Linked DNA regions of Homo sapiens. The protein of the gene in region 7 purifies or fractionates together with the protein of the main gene of each other region. This does not show direct contact. Each region holds a gene or a part of one and is shown on either strand. Other genes may lie near its edges.

Region 1 (3,500 bases), about 100 Mb from region 7:
ATTTTCTGTATTTTTTGGTAGAGACAGGGTTTCACCATGTTGGCCAGGCTGGTCTCAAACTCCTGGCCTCAAGTGATCCACCTGCCTCAGCCTCCCAAAGGGCTGGGATTATAGGCATGAGCCACTGTGCCCAGCCTAATCCTGTGGCTTTAAATACCACTTATATCCATCAATGGTTCCCCAAATTTAAATCTTTCCCAAATTCAAATTTCCGTCCTCTTCTCTCCCCTAAGCTGCTGACTACTTACCCACTGCCTATTCAACATCTCCACTAGGGATATTTAAAAAGAATCTGAAATTTCATTTCTGATTCCCCTCTCCTCCCCAAAGCCTTCAAATCTGCTTCTCCCCCAGTCTTCCCATCTCAGTATTTCCAGTTGCTCAAGACAAAAACCTGGAAGTCCTTCTTTATCCTCACTTTCCTTCACGTGCCAACTGCAAGCCATCAGCGATCTCATTTTCTCTACCTTCAAAATATATCATGCTTCCGGCCCTGTCTCACCACCTCCAGCTCCAGCATCCTACTCTAAGCAACTCTTATTTCTCTCCTAGATTACTGAAATAGCCTCAACTGCTCTCTCTGCTCCCTTTCTTGCCCACCCCCCATCATTTATTCTCTACTCAGGAGGTAAACTTATAAGAAACAAAATCAGATCCTATCATTCCCCTGTTCAAAACCTACCCTTGGCTTCTCATGAGACTTGGAATAAAATCCAAAATGGCTGTCACAGCCTCAGGGCTCTACATGATGTGGGCCCTGGTGATCTTGCTGACCTCATCCCCAGTACTTTATCCTGGCTCCCATACTCCAATCCCCTGGGCACTCTTGCTGGTCCTAGAATCTCCAAGCCCGTTCCCTCCTCAAGACCCTTTCCCCACAGTTCTGAATGGCTCACTTCATCTCATCATCCAGTTCTCTCCTCAGGGAGGTTTTCCCTGAGCACCTCTCCTCTCAGTCACTCTCTATCCCCTTTCATTGCTTTATTGCCTTCACTGCCCCTACATGATTTCGGATCACAAAATCTATTTACTCACAAGAAAATAAGCTCCATGAATCTACAGACCTTTTTGCCATTTCCACAGCAGTATGTCCCATCCCTAGAATATCTGGCACCTGGTTAAGTGTTCAGTACATATTTGTTGAATGGGTAAATGAATGAGAGCTGGAGGGAAATCCAAACTCAGGGGTGCCTGTGCCACAGCAAACACTCTCCCTCTCACACCACCTGGAATAGAGATCAGCTAGAGCAGAGGCTGCTAAGAGAGGGAACAGAGGCTCCTTGTGACAGGGAGACTAGGATCAGAAGTCAGGGAAGGGACAGCCGGGTGAAATGACTGGAAAGAGGAGCAATCACTCAGCAGTAAGGCAGGTTCTTCCAAAGACAAAAAGGACACAGAGATAAGTCAGGGCACTTCCAAGGAACCCAACTACCTACTCCACACTCCCAAATTTATTCTGGGTTGGGCCCTTTTTGGTTCCAATATCACCTCAGATACCATAACTTGTCCAAGGTCTCTTCTTACCTCTCCCACCCTAAATGAAGACGGGCCCTGGGTCCTAATCATACATTCCTTTTTCCTCCACTGTGAGCTGAGACAAAGCCCTTAAGAGGAGATTCTCCTTGGCAACAAACTTAAAGGGTTAAAACCTAGAAGAATACTAATTCTTGCTGAGCTCCTACTATGATTTGATAATCACTGTACTACAGACTAATTACTACAATTCAAATGGTTTATATAAACCACTTAAAACAGTGCCTGTTACATAGTAAGCACCATATAAATACTGAGTTTTAACAATAATAATTGTTATTATTGTTATCACTATTTGTCAGGCATTCTTACACTCTCTTAACACTATTCCCATCATTCCTCACATCCATTCTTTTTTTTTAAAGACAGGGTCTCTATCAGCCAGGCTGGAGTGCAGTGGCACAATCATAGCTCACTGCAGCCTTGAACTCTTGGGCTCAAGTGATCCTCCTGCCTCAGCCTCTGAAGTAGCAGAGACTACAGGCACATACCACCACACTTGGCTAGTTTTCTTTATCTTTTGTAAAGATGGGGTTTCACTATGTTGCCCAGACTAGTCTTGAGCTCCTGGTCTCAAGCAATCCTCCCACCTCAGCCTCCCAAAGCGCTGGGACTATATAGGCATGAGCCCTCACACATGGCCGTCATCCATTCTTTTACTCAGGTATCAATGTCCTTATTTTTAAAATCAAAGTAACTAAGACTCAGAGTAGCAAAATCACTTACTCAAGACCTCACAGCTGAGAAGAGGTGGAATTTAACTCAGGCTGTCATGATCCTTCCACTGCAGCAGACGCCTCTTCTGCCTTGCCCACCGCCACTGGCAGAGATCACCCCTCAGACACCCTGGGGCCTAATGAGACCTGATCGCCCTCTCTCTTCTCCGAATATGAAAACTCTGTACCTCCTTGGAGGCCACCACGCACAAGCTGCCACTTCCTTACCCACACAGCCGATGGTCACCACCCCATCCTTGTAGCGCTCTTGGGTTGGGCCAGTTGGCTCCATTGCTGAATCAGTCTGCTGCTCCACCAGGACTGCTGGGCCATCCTCCTCTTCCTCCTCCTCCCCAGAGCCATTACCCCAGGTGGCCCCAGCCACATCCCGAGCAATCTTCTCCCGCCAGCTGCTCAAGTCCACTGCTCAAAGAAGGAGAAGATTAAAGAGGTTCTCCCCAGGGCTGCTGTGCATGATGGCACATACTGTGCCCTGCACAGATTATGTAACTGGCACCCTCTGGAGTTGTACAGTGCCAACCTAAATAAGAGCAGGTCAGAGAATCTCCCAAAAGTCATTTGACCCTACCCTCCCTGGAATCACGCACGTTTCTCTGAGCTTCTGAAAAGTACTGGGAAGGCTAAAGGCAGCAAGCCACTGAGGCTCCTGACTACCTGCTGCCTCTCGTCCCACCAAGTCAGTCTGCTCCTTATTCTGTCCCTTCCCCTGGCCTCTTGCACATATCCACCATAGAGGGGTTGGCTTCAGGAAAGGTGAGCAAAATGATTCTGCATCTTTGGTCTCCCCCATGTCCTCCTACAGCCCTCCTCTAAGGGCCACATACCTTTCCCCACAGTGATGGCTTCACAGGCTCTCAGCAACTGCTCTGGCCCCAGGGCCCGAGTCCATCCTCTCCCCCGCCTCCGACTCTTCTTCAAGACTGAGATCAGAGGGCACAAAAGGATGGGCACACGGGCTTAGGCCTCTCATCTCTCCCACCACCCTTAGGCCCAAGACCAGGTGCCCCCTTGTCAATAAGCCTCTCTGTTCTCCCCTTTGTCCCCTGCCAACTCACCTCTCCCAAGTTGCCCTCTCTCATTGCCCACTCACCACTACTAGGGTCCTGTGGGGTGCGGGGGTCCCGAGGAAAAGAGGTGAAAAGGACGACGTGGAGCTGGGGATAGTGTTGATGGAAATAATGCTTCCAGGCAACCACAAGAGCTGGCGGGGCCAGATCCACCTTGTTCAAA
Region 2 (3,500 bases), on a different chromosome or scaffold from region 7:
TAAGGTATCTGTTTATTGTACACTAACCTGACTAATAATACACTGAAGTCTACCAAATTGTGATTTTTTTTTCAAGAAAAATGTTTAGGTATCTTGGTGACTAGAAAAGATTAATGCAATTTCTAGTTCCCCAAAATGTATGCTGCTATAATCAAAGAATAACTGACATAGTAAGAAAATTTTATTAAACAATTTATCATAACATTAAAACTTCTTTTTTTTTAAACAGAGTCTTACTCTGTCACTTGGGCTTGAGTGCAGTGGTGTGATCTCAGCTCACTGCAACCTCCGCCTCCCAGGTTCAAGTGATTCTCCTGCCTCAGCTTCCCGAATACCTGGGATTACAGGCACCCGCCACTGTGCCCGGCTAATTTTCGTATTTTTAGTAGAGACGGGGTTTCACCATCTTGGCCAGGCTGGTCTCGAATACCTGACCTCGTGATCTACCTGCCTTAGCCTCCCAAAGTGCTGTGATTACAGGCATGAGCCACTGCGCCCAGACATTTTTTTTTTGTATTTTTAGTAGAGATGGGGTTTCACCATGTTGGCCAGACTGGTCTCGAACTCCTGACCTTGTGATTCGCCTGCCTCAGCCTCCCAAAGTGCTAGGACTACAGGCGTGAGCCACCGCACCCAGCCTAAAAAATTTTTTTAAACTTGATATAATCTCTCCCAATTTTAGGAACACAGAATATAAAGTAAAATCTCAGTTTTACAGAATGAATACTTGAAAAATAATTCCAATAAGGTATCTTTAAGTTGTACTTCCCAAGAAGTAATCACATAAAATAATGCAAATCTTGGCTTAAGATTTTAATAGAAAGCAATCCAGCCTCATACTGTTAATGACAGATCAAGTGAATAATTAGCTATGTCAGTATTTTCTCTCATTTCCTTGAAAGGTTGCAGCTTTGAATAAACATTTTTTATATCACACTCCAATAAGAAAGCTTACAAAAACCAAACATTTGTCACTGGATTTAATTTTTTTTTTTTTTTAACTTTTTAAGAGATGAGGTCTGACGCTGTCACTCAGGCTGGAGTGCAGTGGCACGATCATAGCTCACTGCAGCCTCAAACTCCTGGCCTCAAGTGATTCCCCTGACTTTGTCTCCTAAGTAACTAGGACTATAGGCATGCACCATGGACTTCCAGCTAAGAATTTAAGTTAAAAAAAACATACATATATACGTGTATTAATGTAGACAAACAAACCTGAAACTGTCTTTAAAAACTTTGTTTTGCTATTATGTGAAATTTAAAATTGCTGTCTAAAATATTTATTCACAGGTATATAATAGTAAATATAACCTCTATATAGCAGTTATGTATAATAAAAACAGCTTTTATTCTATTCTTACACAAGATATTTTTAGCTAACCACCACGAGTATGAAAAATAAATTCCAACCACAATTTACCTTGTCCTAAGAGCAAGCCAAGCAGCTTCAATGTCTGCATAGAGGTTCTTCTCTGTGGGTTTCCCGGAACTGGCACCATATCCAGAATAATCATATGAGAATATATTACAATTAATCCGTGATCCTAGTCCTATGTAAAAGCTGCTCATTTGACCAAGATCAACAGCATTTCCATGTGAGAAGAGTAAAGTGTATTTCGCATTGGGTGAACAACGTACAAACATACAAGCAATTCTGTTGCCTTTACTGGTTCTAGTCATGAAACACTCAATAGCATCTTTTTCTCTAGAAGAATACTGCCAGTCTGCTCGTTCAGACAGATGTAAAGTCCAACGGCTTCCGCTTTCATCACACATCAGTGTGTAAGTTGGATCAGGTGGCAAAAACGCTAATTTTGAAGCAATCTTCCCTGGACAAGGTGGACAGCAGAAGAGGCAACATAGCTCACTAAATGAAAGATTATTCATGCTCTGAAAAAGAAAAGGAGATAGCAAATATTTTAATAACTGAATGTAGACTCATACAATAAAAAGTTAAAACACAGACATGGGTAAATTTTATTGGTGGTTAATGACTATTACTATTTTAGGTATGATTCCAAACAGATTTTTGGCTTCTTTTTTTTTTTTGAGACGGAGTTTCACTCTTGTTGCCCAGGCTGGAGTGCAATGGCGCAATCTCAGCTCATCATAACCTACGCCTCCCGGGTTCAAGTGGTTCTCCTGCCTCAGCCTCCTAAGTAGCTGGGATTACAGGCATGCGCCACCACACCCGGTTAATTTTGTATTTTTAGTAGAGATGGGGTTTCTCCATGTTGATCAGATTGGTCTCGAACTCCTGACCTCAGGTGATTCACCCACCTCGGCCTCCCAAAGTGCTGGGATTACAAGGAGTAAGCCACCACGCCCGGCCTTTGGCTTCTTTCTAGAAGTACTTTAAATCCTGGGGTGAGGCAAATATTCCTGACCAGCAGACAGACTCAAATCCTATATGACAGGTTTCAAATAGCAGTGATTATTATCTCATTTAACATAAATGTCAAAAATGATAAAGGTAATATTTGCCATTTCTTTACAAATAACCTGAAGGTATGAAATATCTTTAGTGTAGTCTGTAATTTCTATGTAACTCAGCAAAAGTTCTTAGAACCTCATGGAGAAGCTAGGAATTTAGCATAAAGTGAATACATACTAATAGCATTTATGAAGCTATTTGTCAGGCATTGTGCCAAGTGCTCTATGTGTGTTACTTGGTTTAATTCTCAGAACAACTGTGTAAGTTGTTGTGAGAAAGGAAACTTGCACAAGATGAGGCAGTGGTGGAGCCAGGATTTGACTCCAGGCTGTCACTACACTATGTTACTGGGCTACACTGCCTCACAGATTCAGAACACGCTCAGAAGACTATCACTTTGGTCACAGTGCCAGTGGCCCAAATAACCTATAGAACATTAAAGTGTATGTATGTATGCATGCATGTATGTATGTATGTAATTACTGCCCAAACTAAAAAGGCTATAATATAAAGTTTATTGTGGAAAAAAGGTAAAATCTACTAAAGGTAAACTTTTCTAAATGTTTGGAAGAGAAAGAGTACAAGGTTTAAAGTTAGGAAGCTGGGGTAAAATCCTAACTCTACCACTTACCGTTTGCCAGCTGTATGTCCTTGGGCAAACTATCTCTTTGACTCTCATTTTCTTCATAAGTAAACAAGGCCAATACCTACACTGAAGGACCTGGTTGTGAATATCAAATGTTGGTGTAGTGAAGGCCCATCATACAACATACGGTGAGTGATGGCCATATCATTGTCACACTTTAACTTAGGGACAAAAATAAAGTAATACTTGTTAGTTCTATCAGTATTTCCTTCTATCTTGTCCTTTTTCAAATTCCTGTCTCTTTTTAGCAAAATTAGGCCATTGCTTAGTTCCAGAGAAAAGGCATTTAAAACCAACACCTTACAGGTTTGGTGGCATCCAATTTTCTCCAAAAAGAAAAAAAAAAAATCTAAATATAAGAATAGGGGGAAAAAAGTACCCTATTACACCAAAAATGGGAAGAAAACAACTCAACAGAGT
Region 3 (3,500 bases), on a different chromosome or scaffold from region 7:
TTGCAACGCTCTGCTTCCCAAGGAAAGGGTAAGAGAGGTTGAGGGTAGCCCCCTGCCTAACTGCTTTGGCCAGAAGTGGAAAAAGTAATGCCCAGGCTAAATACACTAAGCTCATCCTGGGGCAATGGACATAGCACTTCCGTTGCCATTCCATCAGTGAGAGCTAGTGACATAGCCTGCCTAGGTGCAAGGCATGCTGGAAAATGGAGTCCCTGGCTAGGCAGTGGTTCCTGGTGGCAATGTGACAGCACAGAGGGGAAGTACAGCTTTTGGAAGGCAGTTAGCCATCACTACCACACTCGTCATCCATACAGAACACACCATCACCTGCCCTTGCCTCTTGACAGCAATAAAAAGACATCCCTGACCCTTGCCTTCTCAGAGTGCCCAGTCCAGTGGGGGGACCTGGCACCACACAGCGATGACCTAGAGTGGTTCGTACCAACCACAATGAGGAGCACAGGCCAGATGGGTCAGGACCGGGATGGGGGAGGCACAGGCAGAGGGGTGGGGGCTGGAGTTGGGGGAGGCACAGGAAGTTATGGGATCCCAGGGAAAGTGCCTGACTCACTGTGGGGTGAGCAGGGATTAAGGGAGGCTTCTTAAAGCAAGTGCCATTAAAGCTGAGGCCACTGAGAGGCTGAGGTGGGAGGATGGCTTGAGCCCAGGAGGTCGAGGCTGCAGCGAACCAAGATCATGCCACTGCACTCCAACCTGGGTGACAGGGCGAGACTCTGTCTCACCAAAGAAAAAAAAAAAAAGCTGAGACCAGAGGCTGAGCATGGTGGCTCATGCCTGTAATTCCAGCACTTTGGGATGCTGAGGCAGGAGGATCCCTTGAGGCCAGGAATTTAAAACCAGCCTGGGCTCTATTTAAAAAAAAAAAAAAGGCTGAGATGGGACAGGGGAAAAGGAGACAACCATCCAGAGAGCAGAGTGTTCCCAGCAGAGGGCAGGGGGTGTACAAAGACCTGTAGTGAAGGTTTGGACCTGCAGACTTGAGTGTTGGTGGATACATCATTACCTTTATCAGGGGTTGCCAACTGTTTTCCAAAGTGGTCTATCCCCATTTTGTCCCCAGAGGGGTCTTTCTAAAGCACAAATCTGGTCAAGATATCCCTCCTACAGCTTCACAGCCCCCTCAGAATCAAGTCTGAACCCTTTGCTGAGCATCCTGTGGCCCCACGGAGTCTCCAGCCCTAGTCCCTTGCCTCTTCTTTCTCCACAATGTGCATACACCCTGTGTCCCCTCCTAGGTTCATACCCCAGGGATATGTTTACCCAACTCCAAGTGATAGGAGTCCTGACATCAATTTATTGGTTTCCAACAGGACTTTTTTTTTTTTTTGAGACAGAGTTTTGCTCTTGTTGCCCAGGCTGGAGTGCAATGGCACGATCTCAGCTCACTGAAGCCTCTGCCTCTGGGGTTCGAGAAATTCTCCCACCTCAGCCTCCCAAGTAGCTGGGATTACAGGTGCCCGCCACCACACCTGGCTAATTTTTTGTATCTTTAGTAGAGATGAGGTTTCACCATTTTGGCCAGGCTAGTCTTGAACTCCTGACCTCATGATCCACCAGCACTTTTTTTTTTTTTATGGAATAGATGATGTCAGTATGTCACAGATGGGAGGGATCCATATTATTTTGGGACACTTTTCTTTTTTTTCCCCGAGATGAAGTCTCGCTCTTGTCACCCAGGCTGGAGTGCAATGGTGTGATCTCGGCTCACTGCACCCTCCGCCTCCCAGGTTCAAGCAATTCTCCTGCCTCAGCCTCCCAAGTAGCTGGGATTACAGGTGCCTGCCACCACGCCCAGCTAATTTTTGTATTTTTAGTAGAGATGGGGTTTCACCATGTTGGCCAGGCTGGTCTCGAACTCCTGACCTCAGGTGATCCGCCTGCCTTGGCCTCCCGAAGTGCTGGGATTACAGCCATGAGCCATTGCGCCTGGCCTTGGGACACTTTTGTTTGACGTTTTTGTGTGCATTTGCATGAACGCCCAGTAGAAACTCTCTCTCTCTCTCTCTCTCTCTCTATATATATATATATATATATATATATATAATTTTATTTATTTGTTTGTTTAGAGATAGAGTTTTGCTCTTGTTGAGAATGGAGGCTGGAGTGCAGTGGCACAATCTCGACTCACTGCAACCTCCACCTCCTGGGTTCAAGTGATTCTCCTGCCTCAGCCTCCCAACTAGCTGGGACTACAGGCGTGCGCCACCACACCCAGCTAATTTTGTATTTTTAGTATAGGTGGGGTTTCACCATGTTGGCCAGTCTGATCTTGAACTCCTGACCTCAGGTGATCCGCCCCCCTCAGCCTCCCAAAATGCTGGGATTACAGGTGTGAGCCATCACGCCCAGCCACCAGTAGAAACAATTTCTTACTGTGGGTTGTGGTCAGTTCAAACTCTACTGCCCTAGAAACATTCTTACAGGTGTTCATTGAGCACAAAAATTAGAAACAGGCCAGGTGAGATGACTCACTAATGTAATCTCTGCACTTTGGGAGGCTGAGGTGGGAGGATCACTGGAGCCCAGTAGTTCGAGACCAGTCTGGGCAACGTAGTGAAACCCTATCTCTACAAAAAATGTTTCAAACTTAGCCAGGTGTGGTGGGGTGCACCTGTGGTCCCAGCTACCCAGGAGGCTGAGGCGGGAGGATCACTTGAGCGTGGGAGTTTGAGGCTGTAGTAAGCCATGGTCGTGCCACTGCACTCCAGCCTGGGCAACAGATCAAGACCCTGTCTCAAAAAAAAAAAAAAATGTCAGAACAGAGTTTATAACTAATAAACATATTTAAAAAGAAGGAAAAAAAATCAGAAACAACCACAGTATTCCTCAGCCAGATAAATGCACTGTGATAGATTCACGCAACGAAGTCCTTACACAGCAGTGTGAAATGAGTGACTGAGCTGGAGCGACACATGGCAACAGGGATAAATCGCAAAACCATGCTGGGCAAAAAGCACAAGTTGCAGGAGAACGACAGTAAATACCACTTCTGTGAAGTTTGAAAATATGCACACCATTACTCTAGATTGTTTACAGCTGTACACATACATAGAAAATATAGAAATGCATAAATGAGAATTTCAGGAAATAATTTAATAATGATTGTAGGAAAGAGGTGACCCTGGGGACCTGGGGGAGGTGTGATCAGGGCGGGATACACAGGAGGCTCCACGTGGATGGGGAGTATTTTTTTTTTTTTTTGAGACGGAGTCTCACTCTGTTGCCCAGGCTGGAGTACAATAGCACAATCTCGGCTCACTGCAACCTCCACCTCCCAGGTTCAAGCCATTCTCCTGCCTCAGCCTCCCAAGTAGCTGGGATTACAGGCACGCACCACCGCACCTGGCTAATTTTTGTATTTTTAGTAGAGACGGGATTTCACCATGATGGCCAGGCTGGTCTCAAACTCCTGACCTCATGATCCACCCACCTTGGCCTCCCAAAGTGCTAGGGTTAGAGGTGTGAGCCACCACGTGTGG
Region 4 (2,478 bases), about 12 Mb from region 7:
TCCACACTGCTAGTGTGAAGGTAAAAATCTGTTATTTCCTTTAATGGAGTAAAGTATACAGGCCTCTGAAATAGTTATTTTGCATAATCTCTGAAGCACTTTATGCATGTCTGCCATGTTATTAGACAGAAGAGGAACTGAATGTGACCTCTGGATAAATGAGATGTCACTATTACATAAGATTGTTCAAGATGTATATGGAACTCCTCACCTGATTTCCACTCCCCCAACCCCCTCCCCCGCCCCTCCCTTCTCAGAATTAAGAGACTGGTATGACTCAGAGATATCTCCTTAAAAAAAGAAAGAATTAAGAGACTGGGAAGGAAATATATCTCAAGTTTAAGTGATTTTTGAGTTAATGAAATATACCAAAATCCTTCTGGTATAAAGCCTTAATATCTACTATTATGTGACAGCCAAGGATCTGAGTTAAGAACCAGCTGGTACTCGGGAGGCTGAGGCAGGAGAATGGCGTGAACCTGGGAGACAGCTTGCAGTGAGCTGAGATCAAGCCACTGCACTCCAGCCTGGGTGACAGAGCAAGACTCCATTTCAAAAAAAAAAAAAAAAAGAACCAGCTGGATTCTTATAGCTTAATACGCTACAGTGTAAGAATTAAAAAATATATATACTTTTCAATAATAAAAATCAGTAAAGGCTGCACTCAAAGACATACAACAAAGAATAATCTTTTTCCTCCATCTTTTGCTGATACTGAGAGCCGCCTTACAATTTGTTTATTAATATTATGCATTAAAAAGTTATTAAAAACAGAACTTCCCAAACCACATAGTTCAATTTGAATCTTTGACCAAATCTTTCAGTAATCATTTGGACAAAACCAGAACTTTCAAAAATGAAACACTATAAATCACTATCTTCCTTTTAACAGAAAAAGATTTATGGATTAAGTTTGAAGTGATTAAAAAAAAAAGTAGCTTGTAAGAATTCTAAGCTTGTAGAATTTGTAGAAATTGTTGCTTGTAGAAAGAATTCTAAGCTTGTAAAAATTGTGGCTTGTAAGAATTCTAAGAATCTATCTACATTAATGAATTCATACTTAAATTTAAAAATTTTCAGAGCTTTTAATGACAGTTCAAACAAAAGAGAAAAAAGGATGTATCCTTTACTTCACTATCTTTACAGAATTGAAAAAAAAAATGTTAGATCCACTATCAACATGGATTTTTGTAAAAAGTATTAGTTTCATGAAAATTTTTATTTTAATCTCTCCAAGATTTGGAACTATTTCAATGTTTGTGTTACTGTTAAAGCAAGGAAGTAAAGACTGCATTTCTCATGCTGATCTCACTATTCATTTAGCTGTACATTTTGAAATATATCAGAGGATAAAAAGTACTTCATATCACATCATGGTTTCACAAGAGAATCATAAAATGCCATCAGAATTCACACATCCAGAGTTTTCATGAAATATAAATACCTGTACCAGTTGGTAAGGGTCATCATGATATAAAGTGAAGCCAGGAAAAGCATGAAGTGAAAGAAGGAATAACTGTAAGTGACACCATCCCTTTCATTATCTACAGCTCGGTGAACATCGTCCCCATCCTCCAGTGATCCATCACTTCTAGCTCCACCATCTTCTATTAATGTAGATTCATCACTTGTTAGAGTCAGTTTATTAACCTGACTATTGTTTGAAGTACGGATGCTGTATGAAAGAGAGTTTAGGAGGAGAGAAAAAAAAGAACATTTTTAAAAGAAATGATTCATAAATAAACAGCTAGACTTCTTGTTTAAAGAAAAAAATTCCATAGTTTTTCCTACCTGGAATAAAATACACACAACAAAAAGAGAATTAGTCCTATAATTCCTTGAGCATGCCACCACTGGACTGACTGCCCTTCCTTTGGGACAGTGCTTGTTGTATTGTAGCCAATTATGCTTAGTAGACTTGGGTTGCAATTTGTTTCTGTAATATAAAGCCAAATTAAAATGTTAGAATATATTAAAAAGATGTTTTTCAGAGCAAACAAAAGTTATTTTTAACTCTCTATACCCCTGCAAATTGAGAAACAATTGCTGGAAAAGGCATCAGTATAACAAAAATAATTGAAGAAAACTTGCACTTATTAATAAGACCTTTGAAGTGTTAATAGTTCTGATTTTATAGAAGTACCTGGAAAAGTTAAATCATTTAATTTTCAACAACATGTGATAGCTGAGAGATAATTACCTCTACAATCAGGAAAGAGGTGAAATATAGATGAACTTTCTAAGGTTAGTATAATTCTAGTAGATTTAGAAAGAAAATTCAGAGATTATAAACCACAATGCACTGGCTTTTCTATCATATGTTGAGATTATGATACAGACTTTATGAAGCTTATCAATTTGATACAGCACATTGTTAAAAAACCAAGACAGCTTACACAAAAACCAGTTATAAGGACTCCAGCAAATGCCTCATGGAAATTACCCAATAAAGTATAATGACCTACTGCTTACTCAAGT
Region 5 (3,500 bases), on a different chromosome or scaffold from region 7:
TTCTCGAGTCAGCATGCGCCTGTCAGCCCAACATCAGGGCTGGGGCGGGCAGGGCTGGCCTGGTGAATCCACATGGGAAAGTGTGTGTGTGGACGTGGTGGGGGCCACTGGGCCACTGACCTGGGAGATGACAAGCTTGAAGGATGACTTAAACTCCTGCACGTCAGTTGTCAAGCGGCTCACCAGCTGCCCTGTCTTATTGGCGTCAAAGAAGGTGATGTCTTGTCTGGCATGGGACAAGAACCAATAAGGAGGGCAGAAGAGGGAGACATTACTTCAGGATAAGGTCCTACCCCCAGACCCCTCAGGCCATCAGTCACCCCAACTCTGCACCCTGCGGCTGGCAGTACCGGAGCAGGGAGCTGAAGAGGGCCCTCCGCATGTCCACAGCCATGCGCTCGCCAACGTGGGACAGCAGCACCAGGTACCCGAAGGTCAGCAGTCCCTGCGAAAGAGCCCAGTGCACTCAGGGATGCCTCGGGTGGCTCCTCGGCGGTCCCCAGCCCCACTCCCGGCTGTACCTGGACACCATAGAGGATAAGCAGGTGGGTGCTGAGATTCTGGGACTCAGTCATGAAACTCCCTACGTGGTCCCTTGTGTACTTGGCCACGACCTCTACCAGCTGGCCCAGGAGCAGGGGGATCTGTACATTCACGAGTGCCGCACCCAAGGCCAGCTGGAATGGGGAGACAGAGGGCACAAATGTTTTAAGTGGGGGAGCCACTCCTCCCCATCCCCAGCCAGATCTTGGCCCTTCCTCTCCCACTACTGAGCACTGCGCTTGTCCAGGTTGTGGCTGGTCATGTGGACACATCAGTGCCTCTCAGAGGTTCAAACCCTGGCTTCCAGTCCCCACGGAACCCTGCCCACCCAGCCACCCAGTGTTGATGCTCCTGGCACCCCTGGACCCCTGGCTAGCCCTTGCTGCTCCCCTGAGCTCTCCCCTGAGAGGCAGCGAGGCAGGAATGCCATCCCTTTGCAGCTCTGGGTCCTGCCCTGTCCCCAGGATGGAGAAGTGGGGAAAGCCTCACCACGACGGCTACCCCCAGGACCAGCAGGTGGGGGTGCAGAAACTGCCAGAAGAGCTTCCAGTTAAAGCGAGACCCCACGACATGGGGTGTGGAGCTGGCAGGAGGGGCCTCTTCTGCCTCACACAGGGCCACAAGGCAGAGGTGGGGATGCTTACTCAGTACCATGGGGCCTAGCAGGGCTCCCCCAACCCAGCACCAGGCAGAGGGGCTCCATCTGGGAGCTAGGGGGGCTCGAGGGAGGTGGGCCCAGAGCTGGGACCGCAGGTGGGCCACGGCCCGGAGGAGGGAGGAGCTGCGGTAGCCATCAGAGTACCTGTAAGGAGAGAGAGGCATGGATGGCTTGAGGCTCCGACTGCCCTCCTGCTGACCAGCACACCCATGGGGCTCTGGCTGAGCCCTCTGGAAGGAGCACTTCCTCTTCTGTCAGGCCCTTGCCCCTGCCCTTCTCAGGGCTGTTCTGAAGCAACTTCAGTTTCTAAGACATGTCCATGGGCAAAGTCGCAGAGGAATGAGGCACTGAGCACAAAATCTAGTCTTAAAAGTCTTATTCCCCTGGGCAACTCTCAGGCAACACCCAGCCAGCCAGGGCCCTCGCAGCCTCGACTCCAGGCTCTGACAGAATGACAGCCTGAAGAACTGGATGGCACGTTAGATGGCCACACACTGCCTGGACAGGAAGGGGCCGGGGGTTTAAGGGACCACGGTGCAGAGAGGTGAGGAAAGAGAGCTGCTCCTGTGCCCGGCACTGGACTTGCTCACAGCAGCCACCAGGGCAGACACAGCCCCACCTCCTGGAGCTAATGGGCTACTTCCCTTGATCCTCACCTCCCTGGGAGGGAGGTGCCATTATTCTCACCTGACAGATGAAAAAAATCATGTGGAGCTAAGAGAGCTGAAATAACTTGTCCGCAGGCAGCAGAACTGGGACGAGCAGGGAACCAAGTCTGCAGTCTGACTCCAGCACCCAGGCTGGCTCTACTCTGCCAGTGTGCCATGTCTTCTGATGTCCCAGGCCCATTACCCTACCTCCCCTCCCTGGCCTGGGGCGCCATGACACACACTCCCTCTCCACAGCTGAAGGAGGAAACAGAGAAAAATAAGAATTCTAATAACTTATCTTGTCATCTTGAATAGGACAATTACCTTCTCTTTCCTTCAGCTGCCACATCTATAAAATGCTAACATCGATTCCACTATTCTAGACATTGTGTTTTTTTTTTTTTTGAGACAGAGTCTCGCTCCGTCACCCCGGCTGGAGTGAAGCGGCACAATCTCGGCTCACTGCAACCTCTGCCTCCCGGGTTCAAGAGATTCTCCTGCCTCAGCCTCCTGAGCAGCTGGGACTACAGGCACGAGCCACCACGCCCAGCTAATTTTTGTATTTTTAGTAGAGATGGGGTTTCGCTTTATTGGCCAGGCTGGTCTTGAACTCCTGACCTCATGATCCACCTGCCTCAGCCTCCCAAAGTGCTGGGATTCCAGGTATGAGCCACCGTGCCTGGCCTATTCTACACATTTTGAACCTACTGTGTGCAGGTGCTCTGCTCGGAGTTATGGAGTTACATGACAGCTGAAGTAACTCCCCTCACAGCAGTCATGCTTGAGTGCGGGAGACTCACAGTTAACTGGAAATCAGAGGCACAAAACAGCTTGAAGCCCTGCTCCTCCTTCTCCTCAGAGGGAGTCAGGAAAGGCCTTCTAGGTAAGGGGGAACCTGTGAGGGGGAACAGGCCAGGCACAGGTGGGGGTGGAGTGTAAAGGGGAGAGCTCTAGGCAGAGGAAAAGCAAGTGCAGGTATCTCCAGTAAGAAAGGATGGGAGAGAAATTTCAGGAATTGTATGGCTGAAGCCTGACCTACAAGAAGGGAAAAGAGACATGAGACTTGCGGGAGGGGCAGTTTTCTAGTTCTTATAAAGCTCCTGGACTTGGGGGGCAATAAGGGTCATGGTGATTTTTAGGCCGAGATGTGCCAAGATTAGGTTTTCATTTTAAAGATCGTAGCATGGCCGGGCGCAGTGGCTCACGCCTGTAATCCCAACACTTTGGGAGGCTGAGGCGGGTGGATCATTTGAGGCCAGGAGTTCTAGATCAACATGTTGAAACCTTGTCTCTACTAAAAATTAGCTGGATGTGGTGGTGTGTGCCTGTGGTCCCAGCTACTTGGGAGGCTGAGGCAGAGAATCACTTGAACCTGGGAGGAGGAGGTCACAGCGAGCCAAGATCGTGCTACCGTACTCCAGCCTGGACAACAGAGCAAGACTCTGTCTTGAAAAAAAAAAAAAAGATCATAGCAGAGGGGCATGGGCTGGAGGCAGACAGGACTGGTTGTAGGGAGCAGAAGTTATCCAGCCAGGAGAGGATGGTGAGATCTAGAAGATCTAGATAAGCTTACTGATGGGGAAAGGTTTAAAAAAAGAGTAGTGTGAGCTTTTCTCTTTACCATCATGGCCTTTCACATCCCTAGACCC
Region 6 (3,500 bases), on a different chromosome or scaffold from region 7:
TGAGCAATGAAGATGAGCGATGAATGCATTAGTAAAACTGGTTACTTGCCTACTGATGTCCACACATGCGACTACTCATGATTTACTGCAACGGTTATCAAATATGTTGCTTTCGCATAATTCATTAGTGATTAATTGCCATGCCAGACACTTCGTTTAGTCTAACAGGGAGGATTCTAGTGGGCGGATTATAGTGGGACGAGTTGGTGATGGGGGTGGTCTCCGGCTAGAAAGAGAAAAAGAGAAAGGTAAAGAAACAAGTAGAATATCTAGCAGAACATTGTTCCAAGGACACTGAGAAAGAGCCATTACACACATGCTCATGCACATACAGGCCAGCAGAAGTGGTTATGATCTGTAATGATTTTAACATTGTCACCTTTCATTTATCTAGTAGTTTTAATGAAAATTACGTCTTTTTTCATATGCAAATCTTTCTCAAAACTGAAGTCATTCCTTCCAATACTAATAAGAAATATGAAACTATTTGAAAGCCATCTGAAACGTACTGCACATATCTTAGCCAATAGAATATAATAATTACATAGAATGAACTCAGGAACTAATAAGGTATACTGTTTCAGACAATGATGGCTTTTGAATTTTTATTTCTCACATATAATTTTCCTTTTTCTTTCAGGATATTATTATCACTTCTCATTGCCTTTTTGACTTTCTCCAATTTGTTCTATATTATGCTTGTAATTTACAGAGCACTAAAAATCAGAAAAGCAAGTCTTTAGAGTTCTCTGTAGCAAGTGTAAATAGGCTCAGTGTTGAGTGCCTGTTTAAATTGCAGGAGCTCTAGTTCCTATTTTGGGTCTTAAAGACTTTAGTATTGGTATTAGTAGTATTACTCACTTTCTAGTTGGTAATGATGTTTCTGGTAGCTGAGTTTACTAAGCAAACGTACTTTAGATAATGAAATATTACTGTATTTGAGAGTCTCAACATTACCAAGTAATATTATTTATTACTTATTTATTCCTCAAGCTTCTACATTTATTTCCTAAATATATTAATAAGTTTTTTTAGTGTATTTGTGTACTTGACTTCATATATGGTATCTTGGGTAGTCATTTTTTTACCCCCCCAAATTTGACAAAGTCTACAAATTGAAATGTTTCTTTTTGATAAAACTCTGCAACTGATTTTTTCAGAAAGACTCCTTCTGGAATTATAGTCATAAATTTTTCTTCTGTATTAGAAACTCTATATTGATCAAATTGAATGTCCTTTCTCAGGTATGAAGAAGTGAAGTTAGAAAAATTTAAGAAAACTATTATGAAAAATAGTTTTGAAAAATAGTTTTGAAAAAAATAGTTGTTGAAAAATCATGGAACTATAAAATTAAATTACACGATCAAGGAAAAATCAAAGCAGGAGAGATATTGTTGATTAATGGTGAAAATATTAACTATTTAGGCACAAACTCATAGATATTAGTAGAATTCCTTTTACCTCATGCACTTGAAAAATGTGTAAGAGGCTTCAAAGGAAATCTTTCTTTGGGGAGGTACAAAGCACTGGAATTACAGGTGTGAGCCATGGTACCCAGCCTTATTTTCATTTAAAATGGCCATATATGTTTAACTTATGTCCTGAATCTTGAATCTGCATAATTTTCTTCTTTGATAGGAAGTTTCTGAAGGGCGCAGGTCACACCCACTTAACTTGTTTCATACAGTGTTTAGCATGGTGTTACATGCAATTACATTCTCAATGTCATTTTGGTCATCTTCTGAGACTACTAACTAATCATTTAAGACTTACTTCAGTGAAGCCTTCCCTGACCTGCCTTCCCCTCTCCTGATACAGTTGTTTGTATAGCATCTCAACAAATCTCTATTATTAGTCATCACACTGAACTCTAATTAGGCTTATATGTTATCTTCACTGATGAGAAATGAGCTGTCTCTTAATCATCTTCATGTAACTGTGGTATCTAGCTCACTGCTTGTCATTCAGTCACTGAATGTTTGATAACTGAATGAATGAAAGTTCCTCCTAGAATCAAGAAATAACTAATGAATGCTTGTGATATTCATTGGTCTTATAAATACAAGGATATTTGTGAGTAAATCATGGCCATGGCAAAAAAAAAAAAGTAGCTAAAGTGACATGTAGGATTGAGATCCTTGGTGACTCTAAAGTATCTAACTGCTCAGTTCTTTAGTAGATATTTGGAATAAATACCAAATAATAAGCCCCCTGCCCTCAGGGAGTTTGTCAAATAATCATGTAACCTATGGAAATGTATTCTTAGCAATTAACCAGTTGGCTGGTGGGAGGAGAGAACTGGCCAGAATTTGAGCTTTAAGGAGGGAAATTCTACCAGAAGTTTTGATAATGGAATTAATTAGGTGATTTCATTAAATAAAAAGTTGATTTTAGACTACAAATTCAGTGAGAAGTAGGATACAGCATGGCATGATGGATTGGAAATCGTTTCATGAATATGTGATAGCTTGGATCAAGGCTTGTAGCCAAGAGAGAAAGGAATGAAACTGACTTCTCTTGATCCTTTTGTTCTTGGCTTAACTGTTATTCCTCAGTCCTTCTGGACCATCCCATAGTTTTCCTGACTTCCTCTGCCTTCCCCTATGACTTCATGTTTGTGTCTCTCGTAGCACGTAACCCTACTTGTGATTATGTATTTATTTACTAGATTATTACCAGTGTCCCCCAAATAGATTCAAAATTCCTTGAGAAAAGAAACCACATATTTTGCATTTATTATGTGTATTCAGCATTTGGTACAATGTGATTAGAAAGCAGTGGTTAAGTATTTGTTGAATAATGGACAAATGAAGAAATGACTGAAAAGTGCCTAAACAAGATATTTAGCCAGGCTAGAGTTTAGGCTAGATCAAGGTGAGTAGGTCTAGCGAGGCCAAGGATGCTACACTTTTAAGGCATTTATCAGAAGCTTATATTTGAGATACTATGTTTACATAGAAAGAGTCCTGGATCAGAAGTTAGAAAATGTGGATTCTAGCTCCAGTTGCCAAATTGTACAATCAGACTAGATGATCTATGTCAAGACTTCCAGTTATATATTGCATAGATTATTTATTGAGCATCTAATATGTGGACTGCTTCATGCTACATGACTTTAAAGAGCTCAGCATCTATTCAGAATGGAAGATGAGTGGAATAAAACAAATATGAAAGTAGCTTTATTATAGTACTTCATTTTAAGTGGAAAAGTGGGGCAAAATTTTGTAATTCGGAGTCTGAGAATACACTCTGGGAAGTCTGAAAATACAATAATGTGGTCAAAGTGATGGCAAACATGATTGTAACTGCTGCATATAAAACTTGGAAGTAGGAATGTAGGTCTATAATGAGTGAAATTGGAACTTAAATGATGGCGATTGAAGGGAAAAATTCAATGGTGTGGATAGAGAATAGAAAGACTTAAGTACTCTTATGGCACAGTAAATTCTCATTAATATCTGCTTTAATCCTTGGACCATGTGGCTGGGACAAGAGCACAA
Region 7 (3,500 bases):
GCTAATACACTGGAGGAGCTAGTGAAGCTTTAGAAGTTCCGTATGGGCTTTTAGAACAAATGTAGGAAAACAGATCCACTTAAAAACAAAAAGCCTAGAATGCTCTAAAACCTTTAGATGACATTTAATTGGAATGCTTGACATTTCCTACTTATTTTCAAAAATAAATTTTCCAAGTGTAGGACACAGGGATCTAAAAGACGTGAGGTTCTACTTGGCAGTAAGCCCTTAAACACCAACATTTTTTATGCAATTTCAGCTGTATCAATAAAAGCAGACTGTTCCAGATAGACAAATGTACTCTGCAGTGATCATGACACAATTGTAGCATTGCATTCAGCTCTGAGTAAAACATCTCGAGAGGGCCATTTAAAAATTGCAGTGTGTTCGCTGAAGGAGGGCAACCTGAATGGCGAGGGCAGTAACCTATGCTGTGGGAAGAATGGTTGAAGAGCTCAGGATGTTTGACTTGGACAAGGGGATTCTCAGAGGAGGGCTGAGGTGCATTCAAATATTTGAATGGCTGTCACGGAGAAGGGGTGGGGAGAGCTGATTCACTGTGTGTCCTTCCACAGGACAAAGCACAGCCTCTGAAAGGCAGATTTAGGATCTAAGCAAGGAATAACTTTTTAGCAGACGCAACTATTTCACAGGGCAGTAAGAGGCTTCGTGAAATGGTGAGCTCCCTGTTACTCAAAGTGCTCAAACAAAACTGGGGACAATTTGATGAGACAGCCTTTAGGGTTTTGACAATTTCTATATTCTGGTTTTAAGCTCCAGAGAAGGAAGGACACCCAATTCTACAAGGACTTTATTAAGCAATCAGTTGGGCCATACCCTGTGCCAGCTAGAAAAGCAGAGAGAGACAGGAGTTTAATTAAAATTGCCAAAAGAACTGCAGTGCGGTTCCTCCTTCCTGCTTCTCCCAACCTCAGCACAACTCACCGACAAGTAGTTACTATGCTTCGATTCTTTCATGCTGCATTTACAAACACTGCCTCAGTACACAAGTGCTCAGTCAGTTTTCCTGCCTGACCAACTGTGGTTTGTGGCTGCAGCTGTTAAAGGCTATTTGTAAAATCTTGTTGTTCGTAGTTGACTACTCCTTGCCACACTAGACATTCTGCTGCTGAGTCAGGGGCCGCCACAATGCAAATGGCAGCCTCAAGTGCACTGTGGGGGCCACTGCTGACCACTGAATGTGCCTTGACTTGGTCCATGACTACAAAGGGACTGTATCTTTGGCTGGAAGCGGTCAGAGGAAAAACTAGGTTTGCAGATGAGAGTCATCAGAATCTTGAGGATCCTGCTTCTTGTGATGCATCTTGGCAAGTTGATGGCTTTTACTGGATCCATGATCACTTTTTTCTCTGAACCCAGGAAGAAACATTACAAATACACTGCAAGCTATTAAAAATGATGAAATATTGCCAGCATGAAATGATTTATTCACATCAGAGCAAAGAAGGGTGAGCTCATTCCAAGAAAAATCCATCTGTACAAATGTCATTAAAAATGTCCACCATTGGGAATGATAGCAAGAGGGGGAAAAAATTGTCCACCGAACAGAAACTAAACTGCTACCATGGCGATTCCCAAGAGGGGAACTGTGGAGAGGGAGAAGAGAGATTTTACCTTCTACATCATATGTTTCCATGTTATTTGAGGTTCCTTTTTTGCATGTGCTTTTTTATATTAATAAAGACACATTGCCATTTTGAAACAGAAAGACATGCCCACCAAGAAGATGACATTGGGTGTAAATTGTGATAGTTACAAGACTGCTATTTTCTTCAACAGAGAAAACTAAGGTAGTCTGTAAAAGTAACACCTTCAGAGCTGGCTACATTTTAAATTTGTGATTTCTATTTTCCTGGATACTGCTGGCATGTTTGAAAATACATATGGTGCTATGTATGCCCTAAGTGGCTGTTCACAAATGGGATCAAAGCTACACAAAACACATTTCTAATCAATTTCTTTTGTCCTTTATAGATCTTATTGGCCTGCCATGGGTGTGCTTTATATATACAATCATGAGTCTAGCATCCCTGCTTTTTGTTGTTATGTTTATACCTGAGACAAAGGGATGCTCTTTGGAACAAATATCAATGGAGCTAGCAAAAGTGTAAGTATTACATGCATTGGTTTCTGAACAATACTCTTTGGTCAAAAGTGCAGCTTTTATATACAGCAAAGGAATAATATCTGAAATTATTAGATATTATTAGATTAGGACATTCCCTTTAGCGTAAGACTATGTCTCAGTGCATAATTCCAATTTCCCTGCTTTGTCTTTAATTTGGGTGATTCAGCTAAGGAAGAATAACCATTTCTTCCCAATGAATGAAGCTTTTTTTTTTTTTTTCAAACTACAAAGTGAATGTATTTGATTGGCAAGTGCAAATTTTCACTTATCAATGAAATATTGTACTGAATTTGAATAAAATCTTTACAATTGGAATGTTTTTTAACGTTAGCCTTTTATAATTATCATCAAACTGTAATGCTATTATTCATTACTATGACCAACCAATATGTACGTACAAGGTTACAAGTTTTTTCCTTTTATACGAAACAAAAACAAAAATACATCATTGTAATTAAAAAGCATTAAACCATATTTTCCTTTTTTGTAATGTAATAATTTTTACTAGAACAAAGTTTAATATTTTCACTGTCTGCATTTCTTTTCGGAAAAAGAAACTGTTACTATTGTTGTTTTACCTGATTTTTTCCTGAAACTAATTTTGTTGTACAGAGGATGTGAATCTTCTGTGCTACTGATTAAAACTATCTCATTTAAAAAACAGTTTATTTCCATAGGTTTTTGGGGAACAGGTGATATTTGGTTACAGAGTAAGTTCTTTAGTGGCGATCGTGAGATTTTGGTGCACCCATCACCGGAGCAGTATACATTGAACTCAATTTGTAGTCTTTTATCCCCCACCACCCCCCAATGCTTCCCCCACCCAGTCCCCAACCAACGGGTGAACATTTTAAAGCTCTACTCAATCACCATCTCAGAACTTCTTCCGCCTCTCTAGCTCCCCCCAACAGGTTTTCTTTGTTTGGGGTTTGGGGTGGGTCCCGGAAGTGTAGATATACCATGTTCACACTGGGCTAGGAACTTGGGTCTCAGCCTTTCCATCTCTATCAGACTTAGAGCTCCTTCTCTGTGCCCTAAACACTTGCTAAGGCTAAGATTAGCAGAAAAACTCTCAGGCTTAACCATCTACCGTTGTTCTAAATATTGCACATTTAAGGTAATTTTAAGAAAGATAAGTTTCTTATATGAATAGGCTTTTAGAAAACTGGTTTAAAAAATTTCACAAGGAGAGATTGTTTAAACAATTTAACTTAGAAGTGAAACATTTAATTTAGAAGTGAGTGGCAGAAAATTCCCTTTCCTTTTTTAGTAGCTCTAATTGCCAAAACCATGTCCTGGGGGAAGAGGTGAGACATAGGGGCTAAGAATGAAGCAGAACTTGTTACTCTTC

The links.
Region 1: the proteins of SLC2A12 (region 7) and GNL1 purify together in Homo sapiens (affinity purification with mass spectrometry; 2 studies listed by BioGRID and IntAct, with this or other methods). This does not show direct contact.
Region 2: the proteins of SLC2A12 (region 7) and ABHD17B purify together in Homo sapiens (affinity purification with mass spectrometry; 2 studies listed by BioGRID and IntAct, with this or other methods). This does not show direct contact.
Region 3: the proteins of SLC2A12 (region 7) and COQ8B purify together in Homo sapiens (affinity purification with mass spectrometry; 2 studies listed by BioGRID and IntAct, with this or other methods). This does not show direct contact.
Region 4: the proteins of SLC2A12 (region 7) and SERINC1 purify together in Homo sapiens (affinity purification with mass spectrometry; 2 studies listed by BioGRID and IntAct, with this or other methods). This does not show direct contact.
Region 5: the proteins of SLC2A12 (region 7) and ABCB8 purify together in Homo sapiens (affinity purification with mass spectrometry; 2 studies listed by BioGRID and IntAct, with this or other methods). This does not show direct contact.
Region 6: the proteins of SLC2A12 (region 7) and DNM3 purify together in Homo sapiens (affinity purification with mass spectrometry; 2 studies listed by BioGRID and IntAct, with this or other methods). This does not show direct contact.

The regions. Positions count from the first base shown.
Region 1 is NC_000006.12:30,549,990-30,553,489, forward strand, and holds part of GNL1 (guanine nucleotide-binding protein-like 1), read right to left. Parts: coding exon 3,361-3,500; intron 3,191-3,360; coding exon 3,095-3,190; intron 2,673-3,094; coding exon 2,478-2,672; intron 1-2,477. UniProt on the Homo sapiens protein: Possible regulatory or functional link with the histocompatibility cluster.
Region 2 is NC_000009.12:71,873,194-71,876,693, forward strand, and holds part of ABHD17B (alpha/beta hydrolase domain-containing protein 17B), read right to left. Parts: intron 1,891-3,500; 5' UTR 1,888-1,890; coding exon 1,421-1,887; intron 1-1,420. UniProt on the Homo sapiens protein: Hydrolyzes fatty acids from S-acylated cysteine residues in proteins. Has depalmitoylating activity towards DLG4/PSD95. Has depalmitoylating activity towards GAP43. Has depalmitoylating activity towards MAP6. Has depalmitoylating activity towards NRAS.
Region 3 is NC_000019.10:40,696,387-40,699,886, reverse strand, and holds part of COQ8B (atypical kinase COQ8B, mitochondrial), read left to right. Parts: intron 1-3,500.
Region 4 is NC_000006.12:122,445,330-122,447,807, forward strand, and holds part of SERINC1 (serine incorporator 1), read right to left. Parts: intron 1,937-2,478; coding exon 1,792-1,936; intron 1,676-1,791; coding exon 1,445-1,675; intron 1-1,444.
Region 5 is NC_000007.14:151,031,450-151,034,949, reverse strand, and holds part of ABCB8 (mitochondrial potassium channel ATP-binding subunit), read right to left. Parts: intron 1,346-3,500; coding exon 1,033-1,345; intron 678-1,032; coding exon 522-677; intron 446-521; coding exon 351-445; intron 227-350; coding exon 121-226; intron 1-120. UniProt on the Homo sapiens protein: ATP-binding subunit of the mitochondrial ATP-gated potassium channel (mitoK(ATP)). Together with pore-forming subunit CCDC51/MITOK of the mitoK(ATP) channel, mediates ATP-dependent potassium currents across the mitochondrial inner membrane.
Region 6 is NC_000001.11:172,404,498-172,407,997, reverse strand, and holds part of DNM3 (dynamin-3), read right to left. Parts: exon of another isoform or gene 227-3,500; coding exon 157-226; 3' UTR 1-156. UniProt on the Homo sapiens protein: Microtubule-associated force-producing protein involved in producing microtubule bundles and able to bind and hydrolyze GTP. Most probably involved in vesicular trafficking processes, in particular endocytosis.
Region 7 is NC_000006.12:134,000,625-134,004,124, reverse strand, and holds part of SLC2A12 (solute carrier family 2, facilitated glucose transporter member 12), read left to right. Parts: intron 1-1,995; coding exon 1,996-2,128; intron 2,129-3,500. UniProt on the Homo sapiens protein: Insulin-independent facilitative glucose transporter.